4 linked regions of the Homo sapiens genome follow. The protein of the gene in region 4 interacts with the protein of the main gene of each other region in a pairwise test. Each region holds a gene or a part of one and is shown on either strand. Other genes may lie near its edges. The genes, in order: PPP3CB, KLHL12, KRTAP13-1 and TBC1D10C.

Region 1 (8,212 bases), on a different chromosome or scaffold from region 4:
ATGTTTTGAGTCTCAAAACGTTGAAATTATTTCTGCTTTTAGAATTTAACTCTACTTAATACAGTCATAAATATTAACTTAAAAAGCACAAAGGCAGGCCAGATGCGGTGGTTCACACCTGTAATCCCAGCACTTTGGGAGGACGAGGCAGGTGGATTACTTGAGGTCAGGAGTTAAGAGACCAGCCTGGCCAACATGGTGAAACACCGCCTCTACCAAAAATACAAAAATTAGCAGGACGTGGTGGCGCATGCCTGTAATTTCAGCTACTTGGGAGGCTAAGGCAGGAGAATACTTGAACCCGGGAGGAGGTTGCTGTGAGCCGAGATTGTACCACTGCACTCCAGCCAGGGCGACAGAGCGAGACTGTCTCAAAAAAAAAATAAAAATAACAAAAATAATAAAAAAGCACAAAGGTTTGAGGTGTGAAAAAGGCCTAATCTTGTTCTGTAACATATGGTTACTTACAGGTATTAGATTACCATTGCTATAATAATTTGAGAGAGAAAAGGGATAAACATTGCAGGTTAAGAATTTCACCAACTGTACCTGACTAGTCTTAAAACAATGATATTTAAAAAAACAAAAAAATTTTAAGAAGAATTTCAATCATTAATAGCATGATTGAAATGATCTGCAATGGTAACAGGATAAACAATTTGTTAGGATTCCTCACAGGAATGCCTCAAGATTGAAGGACAAAAATCTCCAATGCAAAATAACATTTTTTTCTTTTGGTTTTTATTTTTTCCTGTTAGAAAAAATATATACATTTTTTTTTCCTGAGACAGAGTTTCGCTCTTGTTGCCCAGGCTGGAGTACAATGGCGCGATCTCGGCTCACTGCAACCTCCGCCTCCCAGGTTCAAGTGATTCTCCTGCCTCAGCCTCCTGAGTACCTGGGATTACAGGCACATGTCACCACGCCTGGCTAATTTTTGTATTTTTAGGAGATGGGGTTTTGCCGTGTTGGCCAGGCTGGTCTTGAACTCCTGACCTCAGGTGATCCACCCGCCTCGGCCTCCCAAAGTGCTGGGATTACAAGCGTGAGCTACCGTGCCTGGCTTAGAAAAATTAATTGTAACATTAAAACTTATATATAAAACTCTAAGTATGTTTGTAAAAGTTAAACATAATAAGAAATTCTGAAATGAAAAAAAATTTTTTTTTTTGAGACAGGGTCTGACTCTATTGCCCAGGCAATTGTCCGTGCAGTGGCATGATCTCAGCTCACTATGACCTCCGATTCCCAGGCTCAAGCGATCCTCCCACCTCAGCCTCCTGAGCAGCTGGGACTACAAGAGTGTGCCGCCACACCCAGCTAATTTTTTTTTTTTGTATTTTTGGTGGAGATGGGGTTTCACCATGTTGGCCAGGCTGGTCTCCAACTCCTGAGCTCAGGCAATCCCCCTGCCTGGGCCTCCCAAAGTGCTGGGATTACAGGCGTGAACCACCATGCCCCACCAAAAACTTCTTAATACCATTAAACACCAGAGAGTGCTCGACAACTTTCCTCAAAGCTTTATGTGTGGACATGAAATCTGTCCTTACATGTTGCACTGTAAAGTCTTCAAAACTCTTACTACCCACTTAAGTCCAAAAGAATACTGAGGAAGTGAAAACATTTCTTCTGGCAGTACTCACATTCCTGCTTAAAGGTAAAATATTCAGTAAGGTGTCTGCATTCATGGTTGCCTCTCAGAAGAAATAATGTGCTTGGGTATAGAATCTTCAGAACCCATAAATATAAGACACACTGCAAAAGAAAATTTTTCTAGTGAATTTATCTTGTACTTTTGTTTAATGAAGCTGCTTGATCTTTGCTCCTTTTCCTCTACTACCCTTACCATCCTCTATTATCTTTCTTTGTCCCTTACTAAAATATAAGCACCACAAAATCACAGATTTTGTCATCTTATTCACTTTTGATTCTCCACTCCCAGAAGAGTACCTAGCAAATAGGAGAAGAGCAATAAATATTTGTTGAATGAATGAGTCAAACAATCTATTTAATTACTTTGGATTTACAGACTGCCCAATATAAAAACAATTAGCACACTGGTCTACAGATGCGTATTAGTAAATAATACTGTCAAAATAACAGCAGCTAACATTTATTAAGTACTTACAATATGTGAAGCACTATATAATTCCCCTAATTTATTCCTCAAACAACACTATGAAGTATGTAATATCATCTTTATTTTACAAATGAGAAACTGAAGCAAAGATCTCAAGTAACTTGTCCAAAACCACAAAACTTCTAAGTGATGGAGATAGGATTCTGATCCTCTGATCTTAAGCATTATGCCATGCTGCCCATGAAGGGAAGGTCCATGTTTTATGTTTGTTTCATTGATTATGAATATTGCCTTACATATGGTAAGTGCTTATTATCTGAACTAATTCAATGCAAATGTAATTTTTCAAATAAAAATATTATTAAACATTATAGCAGATGCTATTCTCTAAATAGATTTAACATAAGAAAGAGACTCACATTTTACTTATTTGCTTAAAAAAGGAAGAAATATTTGATATGGAAATAAGCATGGTTTATATAATCATATGCAAAAAGAAAAAACAAACTTTTTTATTTTTAGAGACAAGGTCTCACTGTCACCCAGGTTGGAGTGCAATGGCACAATTACTGCTCACTGCAGCCTCGACCTTCTGGGCTCAAGAAATCCTCCTACCTCAGTCTCTTGAGCAGCTGGGACTACAGGCACATGCCACCAGGCCCAGCTAAGTTTTTTTTTTTTTTTTTGTGGAGACAGGGTTTCACCATGTTTCCCTGGCTGGTCTCGAACTCCCAGGTTCAAGCAATCTGCCTGACTTGGCCAACCTGTGCTGCGATTACAGGTGTGAGCCACCACACCCAACAAAACTTTATTGTTAATAAATTAAGGTATATCTAAACATGTAACTATTCATATCCTTCATTTTATTCAAAAGGGAAAAAAGTAATAAAATCAGGGAAATAATCTGTTCTCGATGCTTATTTTGATTCTTTGTTATTTTCCTTTTATAACAACAAAATGTATTAAAGGAGTCAGCTACATCCAGGCGCAGTGGCTCACGCCTGTAATCCCAGCACTTCGGGAGGCCGAGGCAGGCAGATCACCTGAGGCCAGGAGTTCGAGATCAGCTTGACCAACATGGCGAAACTCCATCTCTATTAAAAATACAAAAACTAGCCGGGAGTGGTGGTGGGCACCTGTAATCCCAACTACTTGGGAGGCTGAGGCAGGAGAATCTCTTGAACCTGGGAGGCAGAGGTTGCAGTGAGCCGAGATCACGCCACTACACTCCAGCCTGGGCGACAGAGTGAGAGTCCATCTCAATTAAAAAAAAAAAAAAAAAGAGTCAGCTGCAAAACAATCTTACACAAGGACATGCACACCAACTTAGTTACCAAATAAGCTTCATAAAACTGTTTATTTTATTGTTTTGGTCAAATGCCTGAAATTTTTTTGTTAAAATGGGCCATTTTCTGATTTGCCTGAAGCCCTGTGACAATTTGGGAAAAGTTGACGAGGCTAATAATCAACTATCAGCAGGAGGAAGAAGAACTCAAAATAGCAAAATTCCTAAGGGAAGCAGGACAGACAGAGTCTAGAACTTCCTTCCACTCTGAGAATCCTAGCACACCTCAGAAAAAAAGGTATATTGGAAACACTGGAGAAGGAGATATAAACAACAGTAACCAACATAAATTCACCAGGTAAGGTTTCAGTATCTACTAGGGAAGGTGGTTAAAAGCATATGCTGGGAGTCACATTGCCTGGCTATGCTGTTTACTAATAATACCTTGGGCAAGTTACTTAACCTCTCTAAGCCTCAGGTTCCTCATCTATAAAATGAATAAAACAACAGTACTTACCTCATTAATATTATTGTGAGGATTAATCGATATGTCTTCAGTGCCTAGAACATGCTTAGAACATATTAAATGTGCAACACAGGTATCTATTGGTAGAAATTTGACCCCACAATTCTACCTCTAGGAATTTGTCCTACAAAAATAATCAGGCAAGTATGTAAAGATGTATGAATAATATGACTCATTAAAGCATCATTTGTAAAGAAAAAAACTGGGAACATCTTCAGTGTCTAACACAAGGAATTAATTAATTATGGTTTGTTTATTAGATGGAAAACAATGTAGATATTAAAATGATGCTACGAGTTTATATTTACTGACTTGGAAGGATATTTGGTGTAGGCATGTATGAAAAAGCAAGTTACAGACAATATTATAATATGATCCCCTTTTCATTAAAAAAAGAAAAAATGTATATATTGGAAAATACATATTGTTCTACATTTGCTGCATTTTGTTTATATAATTTAAAAAGATGGCAGGGCAATGTGGCTCACATCTGTAATCTCAACACTTTGGGAGTCCAAGGCAGGAGGATCACTTGAGCCCAGGAGTTCAAGACCAGCCTGGGCAACATAGGAAACTCCATTGCTACAAAAAAATTAAAAATTAGTCTAGGCATGGTGGTGTGTACCTGTGGTCCCAGCTATTTGAGAGACTGGGACAGAAGGATCCCTTAAGCTCAAGAGGTCAAGGCTACATTGAGCCATGCTGGTGCCACTGTACTCCAGCATGGGCCACAGAGTAAGACCCTGTCTCAAAAAAAAAGAAAAAGAAAAGAGAAAAAGGAAGAAAAGGAACCATCTACTGTTAAGTGATAATCAAAAGGTCATTTTAATGCCTCAAGTTTTTAAAAACAAATTAATACTTTCCAAATACACAAAGATTCCATAGGATATACTTGAGTCTTAATAGCTACACAAGGAGAAACAGAAGCACTAGGGCTCAAGCAATAAAAAAATCACAATATACTTTATTTAATCAGACAGAATTCAAGTAATCTTTTTTCACATGGTTTAATGCCTTTAGGGGCAAGAGAGATAAATAGCACTAAATTTTTAAGGCCACTAGTTAACAGGGCAATAAAGACCCCTCAGTCAGCTCATAAATTCCACTGGGAAAAAAATGGCAATTATAATTATATAAACAGAGTTATACAAAGAAATTTATTTGAATTGTTTGAAAGACAGAACAGGAATAAATAGTAGCTTTTCATAAAAACTTCAGAATATGCAGAGTTATTAAAAAAACCTAACACAGGTACTTGTGAAAACTAGGATTAAGTGAAAGCATCTGTGTTAACACTTAACAGCAAATCAAATGACAGTTTATGATTATTACCTCTATACTAAAATAACCTCTGTCCACATAATCGCCAAGAAAAAGGTATCGTGTATTAGCAGGTGATCCTCCTACTTCAAAAAGTTTCATCAGATCAAAAAATTGGCCATGGATGTCACCACACACTGAAACAAGAAGATTATTAGATAAGGGAAAAAAATCTCTAAAACAACAAATTTTACTTAAGTTAAAACGTATTTTACATAAGACATAGTACAAATGCTATCAAGAAATGTCTGAGAAGGAAGTAGTCTATGAACAGTCATGATTAGGATGATGTGTAACCAAGTGTTCATGTGCTCAAGATCTAGAAAAAGATGTAACAGAAATAACGAAATTTGTGGTCAGTGACAAACTGAAATCTACATTTATAAAGATCGTCTCTAGGACTCCAAGGATGTGTTTTAAGTTTCAAGATGACAAAATTACAATGGTGGCAGTTAAAATATCCATTCTAACTCAATACTTTCTGTTGCTCTCTAAATGGTCACTTTTGGTATCTGATATGACATCAAGGTATTTGACCCTAACAATTGAAAGCAAAGTAAGTATTGATCAAATTGAAGTATGGTCAACACAATTGATGAAACCTTCACAAAAGCATATTAGACTAACTTCTACACTCAGATTATTTAGAATCATGTCTATTCACTGAAAACAGGCAATCATTTTTAAGTATGGAAAATAATTTGAAATTCAAGATAATGTCCAAGTAATATTGATTTAGCATACAGTATCATTGAAAACAGTAAGTTGTAAATCCAGGCAACTAAATAATGACATAATAAAAATAATACCCAAAACATGAATAAGCTTACCTGTGATTGGAGCTTCTACTTCTATCATGGTTTTCTCTCTCCGAAGGATGGCAGCACCCTCATTGATAATTCTAAGCGCAATTTCTTCATCTACTCGACCTTCTTTCACCAAGTGGTTCTTCAGAACATCAACCCTGGGTATCCCATCCAAATCAAATACTTCTTCAGATGTCAAGCGATGTGTTGGGGGGAAAGGGACAGCTGCAAATGTTTTTAATTAATAAAAGATAAGTCACCAAAAATACATTAACTTAAAAACTAATAATTGGATCTAGATAAGACTAAAAACTGTAAAGCAGGGATTTTTCTTTCTTCTTCATTTATTGGGTAGAAGTGTTTTTCTAAATAGTAAGCAAATTATACCACTTTTAAAGCTATTTATACTAACATGTTCTTTGTTGAGAATTATTAGAGAAATGAGTTGTCTCACAAAATTAAGTTCTTTCAGGATAACCAAAACTTTTTTGTTTAAGCCAAAACATTTTTAGGCAGAACTCTCAAAATATTGTATTATAGTATTAGATATTCTTTACCTTAAATGAAGTACAATAAATATAATTTAATGCTGGGAGTAGTGAAGCATGTCTGTAATCACGACTACTTCGTAGGCTGGGGCAGGAGGATCACTTGAGGCCAGAAATTGGAGACCAGCCTGGGCAACACAGCGAGACACCATCTCAAAAAAAACCCCACAACACTTTAATACCAAATAAGCCTAACTAGAAAGAAAACCCAAATACAAGGTGATTTACCATGTTCCTTTCTAATAAGAACATAAAAACAATGTTTTCTGACCAACTTGACTATACACTTTTAGAGATATAGACCAAACACCAGATGTTTACTTCTGAAATGCAAATTAATTTAGGAGGCTTAAAATAATAAATCATAATTTCAAAATACTGATTTTTCTCCTACCTTACTTAACGTTTCACAAAACACCTTCATTCAAAATCTTTATGCATATATTCGAAACCAGTGCATTCCTTATCATTGAAGTCACTTTCTGAGTCACCTAACACACATTCTGAAAGCAAATCATACTCATTTCCACCTAAACTGTTTGAGATACAGCACTTTTTGCATATGTGTAAAATGTTACCACTGCAAATTTATCCCTGTAATTTTTTTTTTTTTTTTTTTTTTGAGATGGAGTCTTGTTCTGTCGCCCAGGCTGGAATGCAGTGGCGTGAACTCGGCTCACTGCAACCTTCGCCTCCCGGGTTCAAGGGATTCTCCTGCCTCAGCCTCCCGAGTAGCTGGGATTACAGGCATCCGCCATCATGCCCAGCTTATTTTTGTATTTTTAGTAGAGACCGGGTTTCACCATGTTGGCCAGGCTGGTGTCGAACTCCTGACCTCAGGTGATCTGCCCGCCTTGGCTTCCCAAAGTTCTGGGATTACACGCATGAGCCACTGCACCTGGCCTATCCCTACAAATTTAACCAAAAGTTCCCATTTCATCATAGTTAAGTAGTTGGTTTTTTCACTCCGCAGTACATATTTATGATTTCTGTAAGAAATCACCAACTGTACTGTTTTTAAGTGATATTTGTTGAGTGGAATGGAAAACATGAACATCTATTTCAATGGCATCTAAGCACAATTTTGAGGTCATATACCTAGGAAAAATTACTATATAGTAAGTTTTTCTTATTCCTTTTTTACTGAATCCAACAAGTAAATCTTTATGCATTCAAAATCAGCTTGGACTGAAGCAGTTTCAGGCTCTTTACTGAATAGTACTTTGTTTTTCAAAATAAAGAAAGTGAGAGAGAAATGTACATTAGGAGTCTAATAAATATAGACTGAAATGTAAGGCAGCTCCCTCTTTCCAGATTTTTTTTTCTTTTTTTTTTTTTTTTTAGAAAAATAGGCCGGGTGCAGTGACTCACACCTGAAATCCCAGACTTGGGAGGCCAAGGCCAGTGGATCACTTGAAGTCAGGAGTTCAAGACCAGCCTGGCCAACATGGTGAAACCCCATCTCTACTAAAAACACAAAAATTAGCTGGGTGTGGTGGTGCACACCTGTAGTCCCAGCTACTCAAGAGGGTGACGCAGGAGAATCACTTAAACCCGGGGAGGCAGAAGTTGCAGTGAGCCTAGACTACACCACTGCACTCCAGCCTGGTCGACAGTGAGACTCCATCAAATATATATATATATATA
Region 2 (7,519 bases), on a different chromosome or scaffold from region 4:
TGGATTCGTTTCTAAATCCTCACCCTGCAATTGCATAGAGTCTCCCCCGAAGCACTGTGGCCCCTACATAGCATCGTGGAGTGGTCATACTGGTGACAGTTGTCCAGGAATCAGTGCGAATGTTGTATGCTTCAACGGAAGAAAGGTGGGCTGTACCATCAAATCCCCCCACCACATAAATATGGTCATTCAGCAGGGCTACTCCTGCACCTGGGGAAAATGAATGCATTAGCAAATGTATGGTACTAAGCCTAGAATCTGAATTATAGAAATAAACTACGGTCACTAATGACTAGCTGAGTTCTACAGTAGATGAGGGATATGGAATGGGCCCACACGGGCCTAGAATAATCTAGTCCAGCACAAGTTATTCCATCTATAAACCCTTTGGCTTGGACTTGAAATGATAAAAGATAAATAATAAAAATGGTTCTCTTCTTTACTTTCATTAACTCAGAGCCCAACCCTTCTAATTAGGAGAAAGGGAGGAAGTGAAAAAAAGGTGGCAATAAAGGTAGATGGAGGGAAAGGAGTTGTGATTATGGTTCTGAAGCAATTTTTACCCAGAGTAAGTAAACTAGAACAGCACAGTGCTCTCTCCTTTTCTATATCCCAGCCTGCTCCACTTCAAAAAGCTCTTGGTGAAGGTAAGTAGCTACTCTTTTGTCCTTATGCATTAGAGACTTTATTTAACAGATATTTATTAAGCATGTACTACACAGGCAAAATTGTACTAGATATTCTAAAACGTAGGGAGAGAACAAAGACATGAAGGCTTTTGCTTTCAAATTTATAATCTAGTTGTAAGTATCAACTGTCTTTATCCTAGTATTTAGAGAAAACAGAGACAAGGAGGAGAGCAGAATCTCATTTTTACATTAATCTACGGTTTGTCCCATGCACCACCATTATATATGTAAAGGTCTGACAGCATCGCCTATTGTCCCCTCCCTCAGATCTGGTCTTACCAGAACGCTTGGTGGCCATTGGTGTAACATTAGTCCAATGTCCTGTATGAGGGTCGTATTTCTCAACTGAATTTAAGATATTCAAGCCGTCATATCCTCCTGGAAGACAGAGACCATTCCAGAAAGAGTGGTAAATCCTCATGCCCATTCCTGGTCGGTTTTTTTCTGAGTGCTTCAACTAATTATTTTAGTTTCAATTTTCCCACAAGAGTTCCAATAACTCTAAGAGAAATCTGACATTATGCTTATAAGAAAAAGATAATCCCAATTAATGGAAAATATATTAAGACACACCAGGGTTTTAGTTGAAGGGAAGTCTATGAACGTCATTTTGGTAAAAAGGAATCCTTACCCACAGCCCATTACCCATTGAGTTCCCTCCCATTCCTGCATCCCAGACTCAATACCTAGACAGTAGATCACTCCACTGGCCACTACGAGTCCGGCACCTTCCCGGGCTGTCTGCATATCTCCCAGCATGCTCCACTGGTCAATGTTTGGATCATAGCGCTCCATACTGGTGTGACGCCTGCTTCCATCAAAGCCTCCAGAGACATAGATCATATCTGCTCAGAATAAACAAATTACAGACTATTAGAGAATGAGAGATTTCTAAGAACTCTTTCCTCTACAAATTTTCCAAGGGTCCTTTAAAAGTCTGAGAGCAAAAACAAAGTATTTTTAAATGAGATAAGTCAATTAAGTTTTATAGACAAGGAAGACATCTAAAAAGAATGGGGTAAAACAAAATCCTTAAAAGCATTCAAAGACCACCTAGGAGTTTGCAAAAACACAACTAGTGCCAGTTCCCCACCCAGCACATTGGAACTTGATTTGCCAACTTTGTAGTCAATAATGAAACATCCATGAATATTGAACAGCTTCTATTACACTGATATTTCTGAAAGCAAAAAGGAGTATTTGTCGGCTGGGCACAGTGGCTCACACCTGTAATCCCAGCACCTTGGGAGGCCGAGGTGGGTCAATCACTTGAGCTCAGGAGTTAGAGATCAGCCTGGGCAACATGGCGAAACCCCATCTCTACTAAAAATACAAAAATATAGCTGGGCATGGTGGTGCATGCCTGTAGTCCCAGCTACTCAGGAAGCTGAGGTGGGAGGATCGCTTGAGCTTGGGGAGGTTGAGGCTGCAGTGAGCCGTGATCACACCACTGCACTCCAGCCTGGGCAACAGAGAGAGACCCTGTCTCAAATAATAATAACATTTGACCTTAATTTTTTCTCCGTATTTCATGCTCCTGCCAGACAACAGGAGAGGTTAAAAACCCTGGTCCAGCCACAGTAAGATGGAAATAATTGCCCTGCACATCCAGCCTACCTCCCAGGGTGGTGGCTCCAGCAAGACCTCGTCGGACATTCATAGGGGCCACAGAATACCAGACCCCATCCTCATCTGCTGTGTAGTCTAGACATTCCACTGAACTAAGGCGGGAACGGCCATCATAGCCACCAATGACGTAGATCCGGTCATGAAGGGACACTGAGGCCACATAACGTCTCTTACGAGTGATGCTCTATGGATTTGGAGAGAAGAGGTACAGAGCATTTCAGTTAGGCAAGTTTTGGGCCTTACCTTTTGCTATCTTCCCTGTTGTATCTGCACACCTCTCTGCTTCTTCACCTGTCATCATGAACCCTCCTTAAGTGGTTCATCCTCAAGTGGCTCCCAAATAGCTACCTACTGAACGAAATGCCTGTTGTGGTGCTCTTAAAGATACAAGCTTTCTGCATCTCTGCCTCTTTCCAAGGCTTCCAAAAGATTTAACAGCTTTCTGTTATCCAATATCTGACTCCTTTCTCTTCCATAAGGCACTGGGCTAAGAGACTGATATCCTTCCATAAAGTAGAAAAGTATTCCCACATTGCTAATCAAAGGATGAGGATTTATTATAAGAACCTTAAAAGGTAGGAGGGTTGGATTTCCATGTTTTCTCAGAAATTACTATTGTTCATTCAGCACTGAGAGACATGCTGAGGGAGACAGATACAAACTTTTTTTTTCTGAGTTGGGATCTCACTATCACCCAGGCTGGAGTGCAGTGGCACAATCACAGTTCACTGCAACCTCGAACTCCTGGGCTCAAGCAATCTTCTGCCACAGCCTCCCAAGTAGCTAGGACTACAGGCATGCACCACCATGCCTGGCTAATTTTTTTGTTTACTTTTTTGTAGAGACAGAGTCTCACCATATTGCCCAGGCTGGTCTTGAACTCCTGGCCTCAAGAGATCCTCCCATCTCAGCCTCCCAAAGGGCTGGGATTATAGGTGTGAGCTACCACGCCCAGCCCAAACTTCTGAGCTCAACTGAACACTGGGTTCAATTCAACACAATTTAACATTCAGTTCAGTTTAACACAGCACGACCAATGAAATGTGCTAGGAATTATACAGACAGCTTAGAAAGGCACCTAACTAGTGGTGGCCATCTGAGTTTACCTTGACACAGGGCCACTGACATTTCTAAGGCATAATCTTCTAATCTAAACAGTCAAAAACTGTTAAGTAAGTACCTACTATATGCACAAGACTGTTGTAAGAAACATCCTGTTATTAGGCTTTTCTACTCTTAAGGCTGGATTAGCTATGATCTGGAGGCAGAGACTGAGGACATTTAACATCCCTCCCAACGAATGGTTTCACCATTATTTACTGGCAAAAAGCTCCACTCCTGAGTCTTGGGGTCATATTTCTCTACCACATCAATGGGAGACTGCTGGCTTCCAAAGCCCCCAACCACCAAAAGCACTTCATTGGCTCCTGAAGACAAAGGCAGAAAAAAGATGGGTTAGTTCAGCATCCCTGGATGGGTAACTAGTCACAGGGAAGTGTCAACAGAAACAGTTCTAGGATGTCTTGTTTTATGTGGCTGAGGGATGCAATCCGAAATGGGAGATAATCATAAGGCTGTCGAATGGGGAGTTATTTTTCCTTGAGGCTGTAGCTCTCGAGTCTCTGAAACTTAAATTTCTGGACATTAAAACTCTAGAAAGCAAACTTCAACATGACACTGCACCATTTCTTTTTCTTTTTTTTTTTTTTTTTTTTTTTGGAGACAGAGTTTCGCTCTTGTTGACCAGGCTAGAATGCAATTCCATGATCTCGGCTCACCACAACCTCTGCCTCCTGGGCTCAAGTGATTCTCCTGCCTCAGCCTCCCGAGTAGCTGGGATTACAGGCTGTGCCACCACGCCCAGCTAATTTTGTATTTTTAGTAGAGATGGGGTTGGTCAGGCTGGTCCCGAACTCCCAACCTCAAGTGATCCGCCAGCCTCGACCTCCCAAAGTGCTGGGATTACAGGTGTGAGTCACTGTGCCCGGCAACACTGCACCATTTCAACCTATTGAGATGACTGGCTGACATAATCCTTGAGGTCTTAAGTGCAGGTGAGAGCCTAAAGGCACTCTCTGCACTTAGCCTGAAAAACTCAAATTGGGAGGTTTTTTGTTGTAATGGGGAAAGAACTCTCCTAACCTTGTCACAAAAAAAGCTACATGTTGAAACTTAGGATCCAAGTGATGGATTTAAAATCTCTTTTTCTTTTTCTGAATTGAGAAAGGGTCTCGCTATATTGCCCAGGCTGATCTCAAACTCCTAGCCTAAAGTGATTCTCCTGCCTCAGCCTCCCAAAGTGCTGGGATTACAGGAATGAGTCACTGTGCCTGGCCTAAAATCTCTTTTCCATGAACACTTCCTTCTCCAATTTAGTCAACTATATGATCACATTCCCTGCCAATTCATCAAAACCACCAGGCAACAAAAGACTAGAGTTTTAAAGGAAAAGTCTTTTTCTCTATTTTCCCAAAGAAGCTATTCTGACAGCCTTTATATCTTCCCCTTCCCCTAACGCCTTACTCTGATAAAATATTTCCTACCTTGGCTTTTGGAGACAGGGTCTTGCTATATTGCCCAGGCTGGTCTCAAACTCCCGGCCTCAAGCGATACTCCTGCCTTAGCCTCCCAAGTAGCTGGGATTACAGGAATGAGCCACAGCACCTGCCTTGGCTTTTTTCAAAGAGCAAAGTCTCTTTGAGAAAATCCCCTGTGCATGTGCTCCATTAGAACTCATGGAGAGAATAGTTAGCTGGAGCTTTGGAAAATTCAATCACTAGGAAGCATCTAGGAGACCAAAGTGATCTTATGAGTAACCTGGACTTGAAAGAGCAAATGTAGTACCTTGAAGCTGACAGGAAACACAGATAAACCCCTAATGAAGTAATGGATTTGACAATTATCATCAATTGCTGGGCTAGAATCATTATTTCAAAAGCCAATATATTACTATGAGACATTGAGTGCTTCCTAATGGTGATGAATAGGAAGGACCACACTACCACCTCGTCTTTTTTCCAAAAAACTGAGCCTGACTCTTAACAAGCCTCTAATCCAACCACTAGTTTACAGGCAATACATGGGAGAAGAACATGTTAAATGACACTACAAAGATGCAACAGCAGAGTCTAGAATGTGGGAAATTCTACAGGTCGAACAGCTTGGCTTCTTCAAGAAATAAACTGGCTGGGAAAAACCAAAACAGGATGGAAACTTTTGGATTAAAACGAGACTGAAAAGAGACATGAAATCACGAGCAACGTGTGGACTTTGTCTGGATTCTGATTTGAACAACATAAGTACTCAAAAACAAACAACAAAAAATTATGGAAAAAAAATTACACAAACACGTGAGAATAAGGAATTGTGTGATTTTAAACAGTGATAATGGCATTCTAGATGTGGCAGAATTTTTTTTCCTTATCTTTTAGAGACACACGTGGAAGTATGACACATAGGCATGGAATAATATCCAGTCTGGAATTTGCTTCAAAATAGCCTGGGTGCAGTGGCTCATGCCTGTAATCCCAACACTTTGGGAGGCCAAGGCTGGCAGATCACTTGAGGTAAGGAGTTTGAGACCAGCCTAGCCAACAAGGCAAAACCCCGTCTCTACTAAAAATACAAAAATTAGCTGAGTGTGGTGGCGCACACCTGAAATCCCAACTACTCGGGTGGCTCAGGCATGAGAATGCTTAAACCCAGGAAGTGGAGGTTGTAGTGAGCTGAGATAGCGCCACTACACTCCAGCCTGGGCAATAAGGCAAAACTCCATCTCAAAGAAAAAGCTATGTGTTGATAATTGTTAAAATTGAGTGATGGGTATGGGGGATCATTATATTACTATTTTTATGTTTGAGATTTTTCTTAATAAAACATATACACTCACACATAAACCACGGAGTTTTTCTAAGAGGGCACTTGTCTTATGTACTTGCCAAATAAAGTGGACCCTCTCCAAAGTGAGCCAGCAAGTAGGTCTCAGGAGTCAGCTCCTTCGAAAATCAAAGCATGGCCAGGTGTGGCTCATGCCTGTAATCCTAGCACTTTGGGAGGCCAAAGCAGGTAAATTGTCTGAGGTCAGGAATTCAAGACCAGCCTGTCTAACATGGCAAAACCCCGTCTCTACTAAAAATACAAAAATTAGCCGGGTGCAGTGATGCGCACCTGTAGTCTCAGCTACTTGGGAGGCTGAGGCGGGAGAATCACTTGAACTGAGGAAGAGGTTGCAGTGAGCCGAGATTGCACCACTGCACTCCAGACTAGGCAACAGAGTAAGACTCCATCTCAAAAAAAAAAAAAAAAAATAATAATAATAAATAAAAAAATCAAAGCATAAGAATGAAGGGTTCTTTAGTGATTGAAGTAATTTTATGTCTGCCTAAAATTACTTCAAGTTGGGAGAAGCTAGGACCACAAGTTATTTGTTTCTTCTTTGGGAACACTATTTCCCTACCTATTCCTTTTTCTTACTCCACCTCTTTTCTTCCTGACTTGAATAGACAAGGTAAGTGTGATCCTTCTATCCAAACACATTTCCCATGTAGATGAATATGCCAGCAGATGATGTATGTATGAATAAAAATTCCCACACCAACCAAGAGGTACTTCCTGTGCTATGCAAATTTTAAAGTTTTCTATTGATTTTTCAGCTCTTATTTCTGTTGCTTTATATAACTCCCTGCCCCACCCCCCAACCCCCCAAAAATAAATATATATATCTAAAGAAGTCAGGCACAGTGGCTCATGACTATAATCCTAGCACTTTGGGAGGCCAAAGTGGGCAGATTCCTTGCGCCCAGGGGTTCGAGGCCACTTTGGGTAACATGGTGAGACTCCCATATCTAGAAAAAAATAATAAAAAAAAATAGCCAGGTGTGATGGCAAATGCCTGTAGTCCCAGCTACTCCTGAGGCTGACATGGGAGGATCACTTAAGTCCAGGAGGTTAAGGCTGCAGTGAACAAGGTCGTGTTCCTGCACTCCAGCCTGGGGAACAGAGTGAGAACTTGTCTCAAAAAATAAAATAAAGTAACATAAAATAAAGAAGGCTGGGCGTGGTGGCTCACGCCTGTAATCACAGCACTTTGGGAGGCCGAGGCGGGTGGATCACTTGAGGTCAGGAGTTCAAGGCCAGCCTGGCCAACATGGTGAAACCCCATCTCTACTAATAATACAAAAATTAGCCAGGTGTGGTGGTAC
Region 3 (7,451 bases), on a different chromosome or scaffold from region 4:
ATGGTATCTATATCTATATATAAATAGGTATCTATATTTACATTTGTATCTAAATTTATCTATATAAAGAAATAATTTAGAGCTCACTGTGATGTTATCCTCCTCCTGGAAGAATTTAAATTTGATTTTGGAAGGATAGAACAAGAACCCTGGTATTCCTATATCCTCTTAACTTAAGCACTGAAATGATTTGGAGCTGAACTTCAGCCTCTCTTTTGGATTTGACAACATTCCTATTCTAAAAGTAGTCATGAATTCCATGGCTTTCTGCTTGTTTATTTATCAACACCTTTCTTAGATTTTGGCCCTGGTAATTTCTAAATATTTTCACATGTATGTTTATATATCAAGACCTTTCTTAGATGTTGACACTCATAATTTCTGAATATTTTCACATGTATTTTCCTTGTCTAGATTTTCTAAACAAAAGACATTAATTATAAATTGTTTTTTCATTTGTAAGCATTTGATTTTAACTTATTTAACCTTAGGTATGAACCTAATAATTTATACCTAATCATTGGATAAAAGATTTCTTTTTAAAAGTACATAAGTGATTAGAATAGAAGAGAAAATGGAATAAAAGTGCCCAATCTCGGCCGGGTGTGGGGCTCATGCCTGTAATCTCAGCACTTTGGGAGGCCGAGGCGAGCGGATCACCTGAGGTCAGGAGTTGGAGACCACTCTGGCCAACATGGCAAAACCCCGTCTCTACTAAAAGTACAAAAAAATTAGCCAGGCGTGGTGGTGGGCACCTGTAATCCCGGCTACTAGGGAGACTGAAGCATGAAACTCGCTTGAACCCAGGAGGCAGAGGTTGCAGTGAGCAGAGATTGCGCCACTGCACTCCAGCCTGGGTGACAGAGCAAGACTCTGTCCCAAAAAAAAAAAAAAAAAAAAAAAAAAAAAGTGCCCTATCTCAAGACTGTGTTAGTAGTTTGAATGAACATGTTTGTCATTACCACACCATATTAAATCACTTTGCATTGTAACTGAGCTAAATTTCCAATAATTCCTTGAATACACAAAGACTTTCAGCCCCTTCTGCTTTGCTTATTGCGTGTAATCTTCCCAGACTTCTCCCCTCCGATATTTCTGTCTTTGCAAGTCAAAAATTTGCAGCTCCTTCAAGATATCGTACAATAAGTTTCCCTGTACATTCCTTATCATCTTTGTGTCTCCATATTTTTACATTTAACATCATTTACATGTATAATGGATCTCTTTCTCTAACAGCTGTTGTCTAAAGGAATAATGCATGGGAATAGTTATTGAACGTTGTTTGAGCTCTTTTTTTCTTCTCAACTTTAGGTTCCTTATTGAAATCTATTTATCTTCACACCTGTTTCTGGAACTGCTTTGCCTGAGAAAACAAAGAATGCTACCACAAAAAAGAGAAATAACATTTCCCTAATTTTATGCTCAGATGTGAATTAAATTATCACTTCTGATGATATCAAAAGGTTATTATCTTCAGCTTTACTTAGTGTGAAACATGAATACAAACCAAGGTGGAATATCAATCCTCCATTCAAGTTTCATGGTATCCCTTATTACACATATGTAGATAACTGAATCATATTGAATTCTCATCAATGAGATGCAGGCATTTGATCATGATTACCAACAAATATTGGGTGACTTCAAAAGTTACTTCAAATCACTTTTGTTTCTCTTCAATTCCATTTTTCTTTTATGTATATCTATAACCATATTGTTCTAAATAGTATTTTTTTCTCTGCAGATTCCTGATATAACTATCAACTAGTTTGCTACCTTATGCTTGTTGGCATAGACACAAGAATCCACATTTTATAAGGGGATCAAGCTAATTCCTGATTCTGATATTTTAATGAATAAAAGTCTGTAAATTTAGTAGACTTCCACTACCTGTAGTTTGAATAACAAAAATCTCTGAGGCCCCCAAAAGTTTGTCTGAATCGCAAACTTCATATGATTTTGAAACCTATTCCTATATATATACACCAATTGTTTCATAATAATTGCCTAATACATCACAACCAAAACCCTAGCAATATAAAACCACCACAAACATAGCTGAATATGAGACCAATGGATTTATTGGATTAAAATGATTTGACTTTTTATACAATTGTGGAAGAAAATCGAATAATATAAATTCTACTTTTAATGTGTATTTCAAGATTTATTTTGAGCTAGTTCTCCAATTACAGTTTTTCAGATGAAGCCTGCCAGCCAGTATTTGGGGACAAAGACAAACTGAGAACTTGATAATTATAGAATAAGAGGCTAATTCTTTCTGTACATGATGAAGACAATAAAGGTTATGAGTAGAGGCATTGAAGGCATTAGCCAACAAAATCAGCAATTTAACAAGATGATCAATAGTAGAAGCCTGATCCACAAGTTGGTCTGTAGCAAGAAGACTGGCAGCTCCTAGAAGCCAAGTAGGTTGGGCGGCAGAATCCAACGCCATAGCCCAGGGAAGGGAAGCCACAGCCTCCATAACCCAGGGATCTGAAGCCACTGGACCCACAGCCCACTGAGTAGCAGCTCCTCGATCCATAGCCCAGGGAGCGGCAGCTGCTGGATCCAAAGCCTAGAGACCCAGAGTAAGTTGTCTGGCAGGGACTGCAGAGCAAGGAGGTTCTGGGACGGTAGCAGGAGGTCTGGCAGGGGCTGGACTCCACATAGGATGTCTGGCAGCTGGTGGGCTCCCAGCAGGTCTGCTGACAGCCCCTATAGAGAGAGGAACCCAGCTGGCACGTGCTGGGAGAGCAGAGGTCAGTGCTGTAGACCTGGTTGCTGGGGTAGGAAAAGCCACAGGAGGAGGCTGGGTAGTGCAGGTAGCCACCACAGGAGCGGGAGGAGAAGTTTCCAGAGCAGCAGTTGTAGGACATGTTGATGGGAGATGTGAGTTCAGCTGAGTTACACTGAGAAGATTCTGAGTTTGCATGCCACATCTGGACAGGACCATTTATATACGTTCAGCCGTGGGTGTGGCACCTTACAGGGTCATCCTTCACACATTTAAGCTCCCACATTTCATATAAGCAACTTAGTAATCTTCTTTGTCATTGCAGTTAACTAACACCCTTCATCTTATATTTATGGAAGAACTCCTTTTGTTTTTACAGCTCTGCGTCAATGAAATGCATTTATGTTACAAATGCTATGACAGTATGTGATTAGTCCCTACTCCATTATGTCCAGGAAAACCCCTCTTATTTTCTCTGCCCATGATTTATACATCTGCTCCTGTTTTGGCTGGGAAATTCTTTCTGTCTTGGGTGGGGATAGCAATGTATTCATCTTTTTTTGTCAGTGGCCTAGAGGCAGAAATCTTATTGTTCACACTCTCCAAAATAGTTTGCCATCTGTTATTTACTATAATCAGTGCTTGTAAGTCCAGTCTCGAGGGCCTATATAAAAGTAAGCCAAAGGAATTGAGAGATAACTAGACATAGATATCATCTTGAACAAATTTTTTTAAAAAATTAGTATTTAGAAAAAAGAAATCAAAACAAAAGCAAAAAATAAATAAATACAAATACAACAATAAGGACCCATGTGAAAAAAAGGAAAGTAGAAGACACTGCTGAGATGAGGTAGGAAACAAGTCAGAGTAGTCACAATAGCAGAAGGATGCTCAGGACTCCATCCTAAAAGCAAATCAAAATGCTTTCAAATAAACTTATTTGATGACTTTTGTATGATGCATTCATATTTGTAAGTGTTCTGGAGCCTACCTGTCTACAACACCTCTAAACCCCCACCTCAAAATGTTGACTGCCTTCTGAGCATTTGCGGGGTAACACCAGCTTCTATGTTTTTCGTGACTCTGTCCCAGCCCTCTTTAAAGAGGTGGATTTAGGTTTTGTGGTGTTGAAAAGTATAATTTGGAGATCCTCATTAAAAACACAATATTAGGAATATAATAATAGATATAAACATGGATATTAACTTAGAATAAAAACTTCCATAGTTAACAAAACCCAAGATGTCACAAAATCAAGACAATAATATACCTTTATCATCATCCTCATCTATAATCTTTTTCTACATTTTTTGGTTGCATAGTCGGTCTTTGATCATCTCTACACATGACAATGGTTTTGTCCACATGATTTTCTGTAGAACAAATGGAAGTAAAACTTGGTGTTTCTTTTAGAAATAGTACATCAAAAATACTTGAATTATTTTTTATGACACAGAAAAGTTTTTTTTTTTTAACATTGCCATTTGTTGTGAGCAACGCCACAGCTGTAACACCCTCTGTCATTTCATTTCAGCAGTGCTTCAAGCCTGAGATTGTGCGCCTCTTGTCCAGATGTCCCTGGTTCACCTCCCACCTGTATCTGTTGGCAATTTGCATGAGGATCGGCTGCAAACAGCTGTGGATCCAGGGTTGTAGGGGTCTTCTAGTTTGTGGCAGAGCAGTATCCTCGTTCCAATCCTTCTTCTTAAAAGGAAAACTATGGGCCGGGGGCTGTGGCTCACGCCTGTAATCCCAACACTTTGGGAGGCCGAGGCGGGCGGATCACAATGTCAGGAGATAGAGACCATCCTGGCTAACACGGTGAAACCCTGTCTTTACTAAAAATACAAAAAATTAGCTGGATGTGGTGGCGGGCGCCTGTAGTCCCAGCTACTCGGGAGGCTGAGGCTGGAGAATGGCGTGAACCCCGGAGACAGAGCTTGCAGTGAGCCGAGATGGCGCCACTGCACTCCAGCCTGGGCGACAGAGTGAGACTCTGTTTCAAAAAAAAAAAAAAAAAAAAAAAAGGAAAACTTTCTAAGGTTTATAAGGTTGACCCTGGGGACTAGATATATTAGAAGTAGTGCAGGCAGCTCTCCGGATACACCCACAGCCTGAGGATGCCACGAGGGACTCCTAGGCCACAGCAGCATAGCTGGAGCAGCGGGTTCCTCCCAGTCTCCCCAGGAGTGATAACAGAGCTTTGGAAAATGTCAGGCAAGAGAAGTACCCTCAAGCTTACCCTTCATTAGGTTACATCTGTCTCTGCCTCTGCCTAACATGCCCTGCCCAAGATGTCTGAGCATGTGCTCATGACAGTCTCTCTAAGACATCAGGGACTTACATGGAACACCAGGTCTCCCTCGGACACCTGTCAGGACAATGTGTCTCTCTGGAGCTCCAGCCTCACTTTTAGTAATTACTTTGCTGTATGTGTTGTTGGTGTTTTTCTTGTCTTTGCTGCTGTTTAATCCCAAATCAAAACAGAAAACAAAATAAGAAAATGTCTGATAGCTTTATTATGTTCTTTGGATATATGTTTTCTAAAAATTCAAGACAAATTCCCTGACAGAATATATGCCAAAGTCCAAATATGTGATGTCAGGGGCTCAAGAAGTATAAAGCCATGGCTAATGTCATGGAATTGCAAATCTATTTAATAAAAAGGTAATTATACAACAGATACTGAAAGTATCAACTTTTTCTTAATGTAAATGTATGTTTAATTGGAATTTTCTTTAGAACTCACTAGATAAAACTTGCATAAGTAAAAAAAAAAAAATGACAAAGAAGCTTCCTCCACATCAAACAGCTACTTTTAACAACTTTATCTTGTGATCTTCTAAATATCTAAATTTCTGTCTATAGGCTCTTGGCAGCTGCGAGAAAAGTCCTAGCCCACAAGATGCTGTGAAGACCATTTCTTTCTCAAATCCTCATTTTCCAAGGAACTTTTTGAAGATAACCATCCTATCACAACTAAGGGTAACTTTTTGTTAACTGGAAATAATCAAATTAACAAAGTCAGCAAATGTGTTTATCAGGGCTTACCCTTATGACTTCCCTCCCCGCTTTGCAATAGTGCCCTTCTCCTCCCCATGCATATCCTGCCTTCCCTGCACTAATGGGCTGGTGAATGGTACCAGTTGAAATAATAGACCATAAACTCACAGGTCCTCTGTCAAATCCAGCCCACATAGGTTCATTCATCTCACAAGTGCAGGCCCCCCCGGGCATTTTATTCAACTATAAATTAGTTGCTAATATTCAACAATCAAAAATTCACAAAAATTTGGATTTGTGATTTCTTTTTTAAAAATTCTGAAAGTCTGGTGATCCTGGGTTTTCTCACTCACAGTTGGCTGGAACTGAAGAAGAGTTGCTCCACGGATGTGGGACATGCTTCTTATCATCCCCACAACTCTAACCACCCCTCTTGTCTCCCAGCTCTACAGCCAAATTTCAGTTGTGACTACGCATCAAGCCTGCACTATTATTTTGTTGTGTTGGTTAATGTCTCTATCATAAGTGAGAGAATGTGAGATGAATTAAGAAGCTTTGGGTTTCAAGAAAATTTCTGAAAACTATATTCTCGTGCACTTGACAAATATTCTTTCATGTTTAATAAGAAAATACATCATGTCTGTGATGATGGATTAGAATATGAAGCATCAATCATCAAACAAATCACAAATCCACTGAACCACCTCACTTATATTTATGAGCTGCCTACATCATGTAGTGGCTTGAAATGATCTCCTCTGACTTCAAATACTTTATAAGCCAGCAGAATTTGAGTTGGTTTTTATATGCTGGGCAAATGCTTAAATCAGTGTTGTCTAACTTCTGAATATGCAACAGAATGAACAATGGGTCATTTTAGGACATACAAATAAACCAAAAAATAATTAATTACTTAAATAAAAAAACAGATGATTAAATTCCTCCTAAGGCTGCCTCATTCGTGGTTCTCATGTACCACCATTTTTGGAAGTTACTCCCTTAAATTAAAAGGTTAACATCTAGCCAGGAGCCCACAGGAGATCCTCATAGCCCTGTGAAATCATGCTACATGCCTGACCACCATAACCCCCTCTGGACACGGCTTGTCTGTCCAAGTTTATAAAGTACATTAAAAATAGAGGAAAGGTAATCTATTTTCTGCTTGTAGTATTATAATTTGATTGTAATGTGCAGTCTTTGATAATAATATGCTGTCTTCTGTCTTCATGCTATTGCAAAGATGTAATAGCTATTGCAAATGCTCTCATTCAAGAATGCTGAAGATGGATTTAGTGGCATTAATATCCATCCTGCAAGATGGAACATCTTAGAGTCTGAACAGAGGCCATGTCACTACCCAGTGACATTGTACAGATGGTCTCATGATGACTAGTAATGACTCCTTTCACCATAAATACCAGAGCAAATAGTGATTTTGACAGGTGATGACAGCTGAAATTGGGAGGCAGAAGAAAAAGGGCCTTCAGTTAGAAATCAAATGAATGGCATGATGAATATGCCTGTAGCACAGAAACAGTCCCTAGCATATAGTAGGCACTCCATAGATAGACGTTGATAGAATGAAAAGGGAAGTTAGGCATGCAGATGTCTTATATGAAATCAAGCGTCTCAGAAGCCTATCTAAATGGTAACTATTTTGCCTTTGTTCATTCTTTGATTTGGCAGCTGAGTGAAAGTTGGCTATATC
Region 4 (8,219 bases):
CCAGGCCGACCGCTATGGATTCATTGGGGGCAGCTCAGCAGAGCCAGGGTAAGGGGGCAGGGTGAGGGCTGGCGGAATGCTGGGACAGAGGACAGGGGGCTGAGGGCTGAATTCTGGAGGGAGGCCGGGAGGGTCTGGTGGTAGGGATTGGGAGGGGGACTCAGCCAGTAGCACCCCTCTGCAGGTGCCAGGTGGAACCCTAAGGTGGGAAGGGTCCGGGGAGGCCTCTGTACGTCTCTTACCCCCAGCCTCCGAGGGTTTGCACCCACTACTGGGGCAGAACATCCTTCCCCTTTGAACCTCTGGCTCAGGAATCCCAGATCCAAATCACAGAACCCATACCTCCTCCTTCCCCCTTTCCCCAAGCTACAGACAGAAACACAAGTCCAGATATAGACAGAAACTTGCCCCAGGTCACACAGATCAGACACAGACCCAGACTCAAACTCAGGACTCTGGGCTTCCAGTCCAGGGCTCTCTCCAGCCAGCTTCCCCTATGAATTGTCTGTGTCCCTGTCCTGGGTGACAGCCAACCAGTCCCTCCCCCAATACACACCCACTCACCCCTTCAGTCTCCTGCTTCTGCCCACGTCGGAGCCACATCCTTTCCTGTCCCCGTGACAAGCATTGGCAGCTCCTGGGTCACAGGTCACCCCACAGGGCTCCCAGAGATCCCTAGGGCCAGGAGCTGGGTTCACCTGGGTAGCCTGGAGGGTGGCAGTGTGGGCCTTGGGTAACAGCTGCCCAGCGTCTGGATACCTGTGCCATGCACCCCCAGGCCGGGCCACCCACCTGCAGACCTCATCCGCCAACGGGAGATGAAGTGGGTGGAGATGACCTCGCACTGGGAGAAAACCATGTCCCGGCGGTACAAGAAGGTGAGGGGGGCAGGGGCCCCACTTGGCTTCCATGGCTCATTCCTCTCTGCCTCAGCCCACATCTTGGCAAAATGTACCCACCCTGTGTCCCAGCACCTCCGGCCTTTGCTCCCTGCCACCCAAAGTGGGCCCCTGCCTGCTGATGAGCTGTGCCTGGGGCCTGCCAGCAGGAGCTATGGAGGCTGCCTAGTGGAGCCCTTGGCCTCACCCACAGGTAAAGATGCAGTGCCGGAAAGGCATCCCGTCTGCCCTGCGCGCCCGATGCTGGCCCCTGTTGTGTGGGGCCCATGTGTGCCAGAAGAACAGCCCTGGCACCTATCAGGTGAGGGAGTGGGCAGGGGCCCCAATTCCCCTACCCAGAGCCCCTCACCACACTGAACCCTCACACCCACCTTCCTGGCTACCCACAGGAGCTGGCAGAGGCCCCTGGAGACCCACAGTGGATGGAGACCATTGGCAGGGACCTGCACCGTCAATTCCCTCTGCACGAGATGTTTGTGTCGCCTCAGGGCCACGGGTACGAGGCCGGTGATGCCCAGGGACCCCCAGCCCCACAAGCCCCAGGTGCTCCAGCCCACTTTCCCTAGCCCAGCTCTACAGTCTTGCATCTCAGGGGACCCAGGAAGGCCCAGGGAGGCTGAGGCCTGGGCAGAGGCCCCCAGAGGGTGGAGAAGGGGGTGCCTGCAGGACTGGCCCCTTATGGGGTCTTCCGGCACAGGCAGCAGGGGCTCCTGCAGGTGCTCAAGGCCTACACCCTGTATCGACCGGAGCAGGGCTACTGCCAGGCCCAGGGGCCCGTGGCTGCTGTGCTGCTCATGCACCTGCCCCCAGAGGTGAGTGACCTTGACCCTGCTCTGGGAACCCTAGTGACCTAGGCCCAGGGAACCCCATCCCCAGGAACTGTGGCCTCAGAAACCTGCAATCCTTGATTCCTGGACCCTGTCCTAGTGACCCAGGTCCTCATGACTGCCAGCCTCAGTGACCTTCAAGCCTAATGACCTTGACTCCAGGAACCTGGGACCCTTGACCCCAGCCTTGACCCCAGTCATCTAGGAATCTGGATGTTATCACCTTGACCCCACGACTCCTGATTCTGAACTTGGGGACTGCGACCCCAACCCCAAAGACCCAGAAACCCAGGACTTGAACTTTGGGACACTCCCAACCCTTGGCCAGTGAACCCCAACCCTGTGACCTTCAAATCTAACACCATGAGCCCTGTGATTTCCAACACCCTAAACCCCTCAGCAGACCCTGTCTTGGGCAGAGGAGGGGGCTTTTGGGAAGGGCTTCCAGGAACTGCGCAGGTTAGGAGTGGCCCTGAGTGCAGGCCCCTGTGGTGCCCAGGCCCTCCCCTTCACTCCTTTCCCCTGTCCTGCCTTCTCCTCCACGGTCCCTTCCTTGGTGAGCACTTACAGGCCTGTGCCCTGCCCCTTCCCCAGGAGGCCTTCTGGTGCCTGGTGCAGATCTGTGAGGTCTACCTCCCTGGGTACTACGGGCCCCACATGGTGAGAGGCTGACATGGGGGCTGGAGGAAGGAGGGGCAGGGGCCCGGTGAGTGGGTGGGGGTCTGGGGACTGAGGGAGGTTGAGCCTGGGCTCTGGGGGTGGCGGTGCTGGCCTGCTGATGGACGTGGCCACAGGAGGCTGTGCGGCTGGACGCCGAGGTGTTCATGGCCCTGCTGCGGCGGCTGCTTCCGCACGTGCACAAGCACCTGCAGCAGGTGGGCGTCGGACCCCTGCTGTACCTGCCCGAGTGGTTCCTGTGCCTCTTCGCCCGCTCCCTGCCCTTCCCCACAGTGCTGCGTGTCTGGGATGCCTTCCTCAGTGAGGGTGAGTGGGGCAGCCAGTGGCTGGGGCAGGAGCCTTGGGGTGTGGGTGGGGAGGTAGCTCACCAGCTCCAGGGTTCCCTTTTTGAGCCTCAAATCACAGGACTGGGTGTGCCGAAGGTGATGGCCTGGTGCCTGGCGCTACATCACCCATCACCCATCACCCAGGCACCGCCTGGTGCAGAGCTGGGCCAGGGAGGCTTCCAGAGGAGGCAGATGGGGCAGGAGCAGGGTGATCACAGCACATGGAGGCCTGAGCTTCTCAGGGACAGTAGGAGGCGTTCCTCCCCAGAGCCCGCAGGCACCTGCTGGGTGCTCACTGGCTCCAGACGTGGATCTGCAGCTGGGAATCAAGTGATCGAGACCTTCAATTCTGGCGGGGGTGGGGATGGGTGGCGACAGTAACCAAATTCACAAGATATTTATAGATTGTCAGAAGTGTCATGAAGAAAATAAAACAAGGGATGTGACAGGGAGTGTCAGGGGAGTGCAGGGGCGATGGCTGCATTTAAGCTCCTTCTGGCTGCTCTGTGCAGGAGGAGGACTCACAGGGGTGGCTGTGGAGGCCTGGGGCCAGAGAGGCCACTGTCCCCAGGGGCCAGGCTACAGTCTACGAAGCAGGGAGGGCTTGGAGCCATGAAGCCAGAGAGGTGGAGGCTGGGGGCCAGGCCAAGAACAGGAGGGGAGTCGGAGCAGAGCCAAGCTGGACTCCCTGTGTCTTTGGGACTCTGCCTTGATACTGCCATCGGTAACCCACCTGCATTCTGTTCTATATGTGAGGTCTGGAGGTTGCACCTTAAAACGTGGTAGAAATCAGTCAGCATATGCATACTGTGCATACTGAATGCCTGTCGTGTGCTCAGCCGGCTTCCTGCCCTCCGCACAGCGGAGGACCACTGGCTGACTTAGAGTTCTGGCCACAGGTGTCCAAGTCGCTATCCATGCGGTCACCTTCCAACCAGCCTTAGACCTCGAGAGCAGGGCTGGGCAGAGCTGGGCAGGGCCTGACCTGCCCACCTGGGGGCAAACACTACACAGGCTCCCTTTATCAGAAGGACGATAGTATGAATAGTGATTGTTCCTACCATCATCACTCAACCTCGCTGGTCCCCTGGTGGCTCTTCTCAGATCAGAGGCTGCCAGGAAGGAATTTTGAGGCTCCAGGACTAGCCCAAACTCACACTGTGGGGAGTGTGCACTGAGTGCTATGCTCCTGGCTTAGGGAAGAGCAGTTCTGCCTAGGATCTTTCTAGAATCAGAGGGTCACAGATCCAAGTTGGAAAGGCCCTTAAAGGGCTCCACCTGACCTTTCATCATGGAGATGAGCAAGCTGAGGCCCAGGGAGGGCTTGGTGTGAAGGCATCAGTAGCCCTGGGCTCCTGGCAGGAAGCTGGTGGCTTGGAGGGGACTGGAGCCTTGGGGTGTGGACAGGGAGCTAGCTCACCAGCTCCAGGGTTCCCTTTTGGAGCCTCGAGTCATGGGACCAGGTGTGCTGAAGGTGATGGCCCTGTGCCTGGTGGCACATCACCTGTCACCCGGATGCTGCCTGGGGTAGGAGCTGGGTGATCATAGCACATGGAGGCCTGACTGGCTCAGGGAGGGTAGGAGGTGCTCCTCCCCGGAGCCCACAGGCACCTGCTGGGTGCTTGCTGGCTCCAGATATGGATGGCATCTGAGCATCAAGTGATCAAGACCTTCATTTTGGCGGGGGTGGGGATGGGAGGCGACAGTAACCAAATTCACAAGATAGTAACTCTTCCCCAAAGCATCTGTGGCTCTTGAGGCTAACTTGGCCAGTACAGCGGCCTGTGTTACCCGAAATGCAACTCCACCCTCTGTCATTGTTCCTGAACCGGGGAGGGCAGAGCTGCAGGAGAGTGGGAGGCATATGGCTGAGGGCAGGTTTGGGTGCAGAACTGTGGAGGGGCAGGGCCGGCCTCCCAGTGAATAAGCCCCCGGCCTGCAGGTGCCAGAGTACTGTTCCGTGTGGGGCTGACACTGGTGCGCCTGGCGCTGGGCACTGCAGAGCAGCGAGGGGCCTGCCCTGGCCTCCTGGAGACACTGGGAGCCCTTCGAGCCATCCCCCCCGCGCAGCTGCAGGAGGAGGCCTTCATGTCACAGGTGGGTACCCCCACCTCTCCTTGGACTTGCCCAGCCCCTGCTGCACGGGGGAAACTGAGTCCCAGAGCAGGAAGCCAAAGCGAGAATGGGGACTTAGTTCCTGTCCCCTGAGCTTCAGAGAACACAAAAACCTGAGGCCTCCAGTGGCTTTCTGTGGCTCCCCAGTGAGGCTGTCAGCCCCTCAGTCCTCAGCCACTTCCTGGGCTGGGGACCTCACAGTTTCCTGTTCCTGCCTTGAGGCCGGGCAAACGCAGCACCAACTGCTCCCCACAGGTGCACAGCGTGGTGCTGTCAGAGCGGGACCTGCAGCGGGAGATCAAGGCCCAGCTGGCCCAGCTGCCCGATTCCGCGCCGGGACCCCCGCCCCGGCCACAGGTCCGCCTCGCCGGGGCCCAAGCCATCTTTGAGGCCCAGCAGCTGGCAGGAGTGCGACGAGGCGCCAAGCCTGAGGTGCCTCGGATTGTGGTGCAGCCCCCGGAGGAGCCCAGACCACCGCGGCGGAAACCCCAGACCCGCGGCAAGACTTTCCATGGGCTCCTGACTCGGGCCCGGGGCCCCCCCATCGAGGGGCCCCCCAGGCCCCAACGAGGCTCCACCTCCTTCCTGGACACCCGCTTCTGAGAGGACCATGGACTTAGTGTCCCCCAGTCTCAATTGCCTGATGGCTGATGCCGGCCCGGCAAATAGGCACCGCACTTTACTCTTGGGACTCGGGGACTTGGCTTCCTTCCTGGCAAGGACCAGGCAGTGGGGAAGGAGGAGGTCCTCCGTGGTACATACTGGGTCAGGCACTAGCATGGAGGAGGGTCACAGAGTGGGGCACGTGAGGACCCATGGAACCGTCCTGGTGCCCAGGCCCTCACAAGTACCAAAGCCAGCACCAAAGGAGTCAGGGAAGGGGTTGGCTGAGTCAAGGGACCCCAGAGGGCACCAGGAATAAAATCTTCTTGAACAGATGCCTTGGATGGCGCTGGATCAAATGCCCTCCTCCCAACCCCAGACAGGCAGCCCCTTCCCCTCCTCCCTCATCTGCCCTTCCCAGCCCCGCCCTCTCCTGGTCCTGCCCTGGGGACACACCGAGGCTGCCCACTGGCCGCTGGGGAAGGTGTTTACAGTAATAAGAGCCAATTGAAAGTTGCCCTGCCCAGCCTCTGGGGACAGGAGTGGCTTTTGCACCTGCAGGAGGAGGGCGCCCCAGTGGATGGCGAGTCCAGGGGCTCTACCCCCTCTTCTGCCCTCCTTCCCCTCCCTCCAGGGTGGTTCAGTACTCGCTGGGATGGGGGACTCTAACCCAAGTCCTCCCCGCACCCATGGTTCTAGTCACATCTGTCAAAGGGATCCAGGCAAGAACAAAGGCCTAGTGTGCCTCGGACAAAGGAGAAAGGTCCCGCCAGCCCTCACCCCTCCCTGGGCCCTGCGTCTGCCCCCTCGGGACCGCCACCATGGAAACCCCCTCCCACACTCACTAATAGCCCCCGTGGGTGCCCAGGACCTGAGCCATCGCCAGGGCAACAGGGCTGGTTCCGACACAGGCGTGTGTCCCGCAGTGTCCATTCCCAAGTGCCCTCCCTTCGATGGGGAACACGGCAGGACTCCATATGGATGGGAGGCATCTGCAGGCCCAGGCTCCAGGGGTGGCCATTGGGTGGGGTGTCAGTGGAGTCACCTGTCAGACTCTGGGTTTGGAATGTTCTTGCGACAGGGCCACAGGCTGCGTCTATGTGGCAAGTGCCAGGTCCTGGGTCCTGGGCAGACTTGTCCTACTCCCAAGGAGCCTAACCCCTGGAAGAGGGAATCATGGCGGCCCAGACCCTTCCTTATCTGTCGTTTCTCCGGGGGAAACTGAGGCTCAGGAGGAGCAGGAACTTGCAGAAAGCCTTACTATCTATCCATAGCAGACCCAAGGTTTAGCCCTGCCCCAACCACTGGCAGCTCCCCCCTGGGCAGCCCCCTGGGAGTGCTTTCTCCTGCTCCTTCCCCGCTCTACCCCCAATCCTGCACCAGCCCCTCAGTGTGTGAATGAGGCAATAGCCAGACTCCCGTGATTTAGAGCGCGCTCCAGAGCCTCCTCTGCCCACTCCTCCTTACCCCGCTGGGGTGCCTGCAACTTAATAATAGCCTCCTTACCTGTAGTTTACAAAACCCTTTCCCAGACCCCCCGCCCCTAGGCCCTCTCTCTGCAGGTGGCCCCTGATATCCCTGTTAGAGACACAGGCTTAGTGAGGACAAGGACCTCACCCAGGCCCACAGTGAAAGGCAGAGCCGGCTGGAATGCAGAGGCAAGGCTCTGTGCTGTGTAGACTATGCCTTATCCTTAGACGAGGAGTGTCTTGGTGGAATCTCAGGCACTGTAGCGGGCAGGGTGGCCGGGGTCAGGGGGCACTTGTCCCTGAAATCCACTTGGGAGCTCCCCGCCCTCCACAGTTCAGCTCTTTGCCTGGGAGAATAGAGGAGCAAGGTGCAGCAGCCTCAGCCCTGGGCCGAGGGTCTGTCATGAGCCTGCGGGGGCGCGGTGGCAGTGGCTCACCCTGGACACAGACCCTAGGAGCCGGTGGTCTCCAGCAGCGTCCCTCCAGCTGGGGCTCAGTCATTGCCTTTCCTACTCAGGAGACTGTTTTCTGGGCAGCTCTTCTGTAGGTTTCCTTATCAGTCACCTGCATGGGAGCCCTAACTCACAGGCTGGACAGAAGAGGCCCAGTGCCCTCCGGGTGTGAACCCTCGCACACATGCGTTCTCACAGGCTCTCCTCCGCAGGGCTGCACCGGCCCCCACAGCACCTTTTTGCCAGCTAGGGAAAGACGTCTCTCCTCCAGGCAACATGCAGCCTCACCAGAGTGCACGGTGTAGCAGAGTGGGGTGTGATCTCTCTCCCAGGTGCCTTTGTGCAGTGAGCAACCTACACAAACATGCTCAGTGAACCTAGAAAGTCCCTACAGATCTGCCTGGAAGGGGGCTCAGAGAAGGGAAGTGATGCATCTGAGAGGACTCAGTGTGTGGGGACTGAAGCTGGGAGGGCCCCTGGGATGTCTGTCAGCCTGCCTCAGAGTGGACACGAGTGGGGGCATGCAAAGGAGTGGAGCAGGACAAATGGGTGCCTGCCATGGATCGGCGGGGAGGACCCACGGTCTCCATCTTGCCCTGCCACCCACTTGAGGTTCCCTGAATTCCCACACTGTTCCAGGCTCCCAGAGGGGTCAGACTTGGACTCACCTGCATGGGAAAGGCCCTTTCTTCTCCTCTGAGCCTCAGTATTCTCCTGCGGATAATGGGATTATAATAGCCCCCACCCCAGCCTCAAGAGGGCTCTACCAGCTCATGATGATGATGATGATGACTGTTCAGTCCAGCGGGACAGCAGCCAAAGCACTGCCTCTCCTCACCCCACCCCTACC

Evidence for each region.
Region 1: the proteins of TBC1D10C (region 4) and PPP3CB interact in a two-hybrid assay, tested with the Homo sapiens proteins (one study listed by IntAct).
Region 2: the proteins of TBC1D10C (region 4) and KLHL12 interact in binary tests that used the Homo sapiens proteins (3 or more experiments, as listed by UniProt).
Region 3: the proteins of TBC1D10C (region 4) and KRTAP13-1 interact in a two-hybrid assay, tested with the Homo sapiens proteins (one large-scale study listed by BioGRID).

The regions. Positions count from the first base shown.
Region 1 is NC_000010.11:73,473,276-73,481,487, forward strand, and holds part of PPP3CB (serine/threonine-protein phosphatase 2B catalytic subunit beta isoform), read right to left. Parts: intron 6,694-8,212; exon of another isoform or gene 6,575-6,693; intron 6,243-6,574; coding exon 6,042-6,242; intron 5,349-6,041; coding exon 5,224-5,348; intron 3,937-5,223; coding exon of another isoform or gene 3,883-3,936; intron 1,756-3,882; coding exon 1,644-1,755; intron 1-1,643. UniProt on the Homo sapiens protein: Calcium-dependent, calmodulin-stimulated protein phosphatase which plays an essential role in the transduction of intracellular Ca(2+)-mediated signals.
Region 2 is NC_000001.11:202,893,216-202,900,734, forward strand, and holds part of KLHL12 (kelch-like protein 12), read right to left. Parts: intron 3,746-7,519; coding exon 3,639-3,745; intron 2,503-3,638; coding exon 2,307-2,502; intron 1,535-2,306; coding exon 1,376-1,534; intron 1,068-1,375; coding exon 969-1,067; intron 211-968; coding exon 24-210; intron 1-23. UniProt on the Homo sapiens protein: Substrate-specific adapter of a BCR (BTB-CUL3-RBX1) E3 ubiquitin ligase complex that acts as a negative regulator of Wnt signaling pathway and ER-Golgi transport.
Region 3 is NC_000021.9:30,391,518-30,398,968, reverse strand, and holds KRTAP13-1 (keratin-associated protein 13-1), read right to left. Parts: upstream 2,939-7,451; 5' UTR 2,883-2,938; coding exon 2,364-2,882; 3' UTR 2,147-2,363; downstream 1-2,146. UniProt on the Homo sapiens protein: In the hair cortex, hair keratin intermediate filaments are embedded in an interfilamentous matrix, consisting of hair keratin-associated proteins (KRTAP), which are essential for the formation of a rigid and resistant hair shaft through their extensive disulfide bond cross-linking with abundant cysteine residues of hair keratins.
Region 4 is NC_000011.10:67,404,307-67,412,525, forward strand, and holds the end of TBC1D10C (carabin), read left to right. Parts: coding exon 1-48; intron 49-778; coding exon 779-878; intron 879-1,092; coding exon 1,093-1,200; intron 1,201-1,288; coding exon 1,289-1,395; intron 1,396-1,596; coding exon 1,597-1,711; intron 1,712-2,296; coding exon of another isoform or gene 2,297-2,320; coding exon 2,321-2,386; exon of another isoform or gene 2,387-2,432; intron 2,433-2,520; coding exon 2,521-2,710; intron 2,711-3,242; coding exon of another isoform or gene 3,243-3,443; exon of another isoform or gene 3,444-4,662; intron 4,663-4,672; coding exon 4,673-4,827; intron 4,828-5,100; coding exon 5,101-5,448; 3' UTR 5,449-5,783; downstream 5,784-8,219.